Regions from separate parts of the Homo sapiens genome. Here region 2 is linked to region 1. The links come from fine-mapping of genetic effects on gene expression. Tissue or cell type: whole blood. Region 1 holds a variant in brackets; the other region holds the start of a gene. All regions are shown on one strand. Distances are between the middles of the regions.

Region 1 (2,680 bases):
CAAGAGACATGGTTCAAGATGATAAATCTCACCCGGGATCTGTGGCTCATGCCTATAATCCCAGTACTTTGGGAGGCCAAGGTGGGAAGATTGCTTGAGCCCAAGAGTTCAAGACTAGCCTGCACAAAACAGTGAGACTTCGTTTCTATTTAAAAAAAGAAATGGCCGGGTGCGGTGGCTCACGCCTGTAATCCCAGCACTTTGGGAGGCTGAGGAGGGTGGATCACGAGTTCAGGAGTACAAAACCAGCCTGGCCAACATAGCGAAATCCTGTCTCTACTAAAAATACAAAAATTAGCCAGGTGTGGTGGCGCATGCCTGTAATCCCGGCTACTCGGGAGGCTGAGGTGGGAGAATCTCTCAAACTCAGGAGGCAGAGGTTGCGGTGAGCCAAAATCGCGCCATTGCACTCCAGCCTGGGCGACACAGCAAGACTCTGTCTCAAAAAAAAAAAAAAGATAGGTACAGACATGCAAACACTCGAAACATTCAGAAAGCCACTCAAAGCTGTGTTCCACAAAGATGAGAGGGTAAACTGAGAAGACGGAAGGCATAGGATCGGGGAAGCAGGGTCTAACACAAGAAGCAGACGAGGAATTCTGAAGGTGATGGCAAAGAGTATCCCAGGACAATAGCTATGCTGCAGGACTGGGGACCACTAGTCTCAGCTGGGGGAGAAGAGAAGACCAGGAGGGAGAGCCCCGGGGAAAACAATAAAACTGGGAAAATGCCTCATAGATTTGAAAAAATCAAGGAATGCTATTTAAAAGTGCTGTTTAGAAATATGGAGCTTAAGGCCATAGAAATTATCACAAATAGAGCAGCCCCTGCCCCACCTCTCCCTACCCTTAACTTTGTCTCCTGGGCGCTTGTTTGGGGCCAGGGTTCTGCTATTTCTCTACTTATATTCCCATTCCCACTAAAAACAGATTTGTATCTTTTCTCTGCCCCTTCCTTTCCTCAGCACACCACGTTTATCATTTTGTTTCATTCTTTGCCAATTTAAGAGGTGATAAATGGTATCTTATCCCATTTATTTGCTTATTAATGAGTTTTTTGTTTTGTTTTGTTTTTGTTTTTTTGAGACAGAGTCTCTCTCTGTCGCCCAGGCTGGAGTGCAGTAGCGTGATCTCGGCTCACTGCAACCTCCACCTCCCTGGTTCAAGCGATTCTCCTGCCTCAGCCTCCCGAGTAGCTGAGACCACAGGCGTGTGCCACCATGCTCGGATAATTTTTTGTATTTTTAGTAGAGACGGGGTTTCAC[T/C]GTGTTAGCCCGGATGGTCTCGATCTCCTGACCTCGTGATCCGCCCGCCTTGGCCTCCCAAAGTGCTGGGATTACAGGCGTGAGCCACCGTGCCCAGTGAGTTTGATTTTTTTTTTTTACATCTTTTTTGGCTTTTGAAACCAATTTGGCAAAGTCATAAATTGTATTTCATTGTATTTCTTTGATTATTAACAAGACTGAGGGTTTTTTAAAAAAAATTTTTTTTTGTCATTTTGGGCAATTATCTGATAGGAGCTTTGCCTTTGTTTTCCTTTGGGATAGTCATCCTTTTCTTATTAAGAGCTTGCTCTATAAACATTTATTAAATAAACTGTTGGACATTAAGTATATTGAAAATGTTTTCCCTGCTTTGATATTTGTCTTCTAGCTTTAAGGCATAATTTCTACATAGGAATTTTTTATTTAATACAGTCAAATCTGTCAGCTTTTCACTTACAGGGTCTTTTGTGTCACGCTTACTTTGAAAAGCCATTCACAAAGCGAAAAGCACTGTGTTGTGTTTAGATTTCAAGAAAAACTTCCAAGAAGCACTTTTTTTTTTAATCTGCTGCACTAGAAAGCAATCAGCACCCTGATCACTGACCCAGCGTTTCAGTCTTTGAATCCATTCATCTCTTAGACTGCGTGGTACGCTTACTGCTAAGTAGTTGTTTCATTAACTAATAGATTGTTCTTAAACATTGTTTTTTTTTTTTTTTTTTTTTTTTTTGAGACAGTCTTGCTCTGTGGCCAGGCTTGTGTGCAGTGGCGTGATCTCGGCTCACTGCAACCTCCGCCTCCCAGGTTCAAGCGATTCCCCTGCCTCAGCTCCGGAGTAGCTGGGACTACAGGCGCGCAATACCATGCCCGGCTAATTTTTTGTATTTTAGTAGGGACGGGGTTTCACCATGTTGGCCAAGATGATCTTGATCTCCTGATCTCGTGATCCGGCCGCCTTAACCTCCCAAAGATCTGGGATTACAGGCTACAGGCGTAAGCCACCACGCCCGGCCTTTTTTTTTTTTTTTTTGAGACAGAGTCTCGCTGTGTTGCCAAGGTTGGAGTGCAGTGGTGCAATCTTGGCTCACTGTGACCTCCACCTCCCAGGTTCAAGCGATTCCCCTGCCTCAGCCTCCCAAGTAGCTGGGATTGCTGGCACGTGCCACCACGCCCAGCTAATTTTTGTATTTTTAGTAGAGATGGGGTTTTGCTATGTTGGCCAGGCTGTTCCCGAACTTCTGGCCTCAAGTGATCCGTCCACCTTGGCCTCCCAAAGTGCTGGGATTACAGGCATGAGCCACCAATCCCAGCATTTAAATATTCATTAGTTTTCATTCTAACTATTGGATAAGATGTAATTTATACGATGTTCAACCCTAAAGCCTAAAAAGCCTTGCTGTGGACAATAAGAATAGG
Region 2 (2,680 bases), 100 kb before region 1:
TGCCTGCCAATCAATGCTTCCAGAATGTACAAAGGTGCTTCCTGATGGCATCCCATCATAGTGTCTTCCACCACAGCCTTAGCTTTCCTGGAGGGGAAAGTGGCTTGTAAACTTGCCAAAGTGGGATGCATTGTTATAATTACCATTATGATTGTTCTGGGTGTCTATTACCAATTCTACAGGTGCTGGCTCTTACAAGCCAACCCATTATGAGGTAGACAGGGGATTTATCCTGCAGAGCCCACAGGGTCGTCTGCTCTAGACTGAGCCTGCAGACATCTTCCATCCCAGGGCCAAAGGGTAAGGGCCAGGGTTTCAGGTTCACCAAACTGCAGCCCTGGTCCCTTCGTTTAGTGTGAGGAGGGGCACCAGTATGATGAGTGGTTAGTAATGGGTGCAAAGCGGGTGGGGGGATGCCTGGGTATGAGGGCTCCTCTTCCTGGGTCTAGCTCTGGCTCCAACACCTACCAGCTGTGCTACTTGAGCTAATCTCTCAGACCTCAGTTTTACGCTATAAAATGAGGACAATGATGGTGTCAAGTGCATAGAGCTATTATGAGTATTAAAATTCATCAACAAAGATTTTTGTGTAGCTTCTATGTGCTAGGAACAGGGTTCCCATCCTAGCTAGCCACCTGCTGAGACTGAAACCCTGAGCCTCCATTTCTTCCTCTTTGGCCTGCACAGGTCCAGGTTGCTGCTATGGCTGGCTGGGCACCTCCTCCTGCCTCCATTCGCCCTAGGCCTCATTCCCACCTCCCACAGCCTGAACTCATGCCCCTTCTTTGGACTACTCAGCTTGTAGCTGCCACACTCTGTCTGCATTATGTGTGTGGACATTGACTATTACTGGCAGGCCTGGCCACAGAGCCTAGGCCAAGGATTTACTAGTTTGGTCCTTGTCTAGCTCACACTAACCACCTCTCCTTTTTTTTTTTTTTTTTTTTTTTTTTTTTTTTTTTGAGGCAGGGTCTCCGTCTATTGCCCAGGATCCAGGATAGAGTGCAGTGGTGTGATCAAAACACACTGCAGCCTCGACCTTCTGGGCTCAAGTGATCCTCCCGCCTCCGCCTCCCAAAGCAGGGATTCCAGGCGTGAGCCGCCGCTCCCGGCCTCACCTGGCCTTCTTTGTTGGGCTAGGTGGGGACTGGGAAATGCACAGGGCCACTTTCAAATCAAAGTCAGAAGCACTTTGCTCGCTCCACAGAGTCCTCAGTGCTCTGCTGAAAGCAAGGAGGCTTTTTCCAAGGCTCTAGTTTTGCCTCCAGGGAAACTGAGGCACAAGGCAGCAATGATTACTGAGGGTCCTGCCTCCGCTCCTCTAGGTGAGGAGCCTATTCCAGGGGCTCCAGTCTGAAAGCCTAGAGGCGAGGGGCGCGCACTACAATTCCCAGAGGTCCCCGGACTCAAGGGCGGTCCCCGCCCCCCGCCTTCTCCGCGCGACGAAGCCGGGCTTACCAATGGGAGCCCGGAGTGGGGCGAGCAGGGGCGGGACGGGGCGGGACTGCGGGGAGGTGGCCGGCGGGCCGCGCCGCGAGCCAGTATCTCAGAGAGCGCGGGGTCCGGACAGCCGCGCGCTGAGGGTCTCGGGGCGGGCGCCGCGGGACCTCTCCGGGCCATGGGTAAGCGGCTCTGCGGCGCGGCCCGGACAGGGGCTCGGCGGCCCTGCAGGGAGGTTCAAGGTGCCGGCGCCGGGTCCCCTCCAGCCCTCGTGGCAGTCGGTGCGCTGTGTGGGGCGGAGAGGGGCCCGGGGTGGGTTTCGGGGCGCGGGCCAAGGGGAGCGAGCCCGGCCCGCGGCTTCAGCGCTCCCCGGCCGGCGCGGAAGGGGTGAGGCTGGGCGTCCGCGCGAGCTTCGAGAAAAGGAAAGACAAAAAGTTTTGGCGGCCAGGGGCTTCCCGGGCGTTTATCTCGAAACTCTTTTCGCCGTCTCTTGCCTGAAATATGCCGAGCCCGGTACGGCTCTGTCGTCCCACTTCCTGCTGCGGTTTCCACCTCGAGCTGGGCTCAGCTAATTTGTTGTGACAGCTGTCGGCAGCCGCCCCTCCGCCCCGTGACATCCCGCAGGTTTCAGAACCGCGGCGCCGCCGGGCACAGACTCCGGGTCCAGAGCGCGCGGCCCTTTCCTCTGCGGCCGCCGTTTCCTGAAAGGGGCTGCGCGGGTGTGAAGAACTTGCTCAATGCGCTTTGTAGGATCCACTGTTCCTCTTTCGGCCGCGGGCTGCGCCGATGGTCCGGGGAGCCCGGCTTCTCGCCCCCTGCCCCTTCCTTCTCTTCCCTTTTCTCTTTTCCTCTCCTGTCTCTCCGCCCACCCGCCGCAGCCCCACAGGAGAGGGGTCGCTTCCCTGGTTGCTCTCCTCTCCTGTCCCTTGTGTGTCCCCTTGTCTTCCCTCGGTCTGCAGAAGGGACGGGGTGGCGGCTGGGGAGCGTCAGGGGAAGAGGGCAAGAGCGTGGGCTACGAGCTTGCAGGCGATGCCCGGCTTCGCGCTCGGCGGGAGCTGCGGGCCAACCCGGGCCCGCGCTCCGTCCCTCCGCGGTGTCTAGGGGTCGCCCGGGCTGGGGTCGCGTCACCCTCCGCCCAGCGCCGGCGTGGTGGGGCTTGCGCGGTGCAGGACCCCCGAGGGCCCAGGGGGTCCCAAGGCGCTGCGGGTCCAGTGTCCCTTTGTTTGCAGAGTCTTGGGCC

The links. PIP is the estimated chance that this variant, and not a neighbour inherited with it, causes the effect.
Region 2: ARID5A starts here. The variant in region 1 is fine-mapped to the expression of ARID5A in whole blood (TOPMed, PIP 0.99).

Annotation. Positions count from the first base shown.
Region 1 is chr2:96,639,214-96,641,893 of GRCh38, forward strand. No RefSeq gene overlaps it. Among named protein-coding and RNA genes, the nearest start is that of FER1L5, 2.2 kb to the right of the region's middle. The variant T/C (reference allele first, on the strand shown) is at 1,265.
Region 2 is chr2:96,535,209-96,537,888 of GRCh38, forward strand. ARID5A (AT-rich interaction domain 5A) reads left to right here and starts at 1,544. Exons shown (of 7, transcript NM_212481.3): 1 at 1,544-1,622. The coding sequence starts at 1,619. RefSeq lists silencers at 1,463-1,822, 2,503-2,680.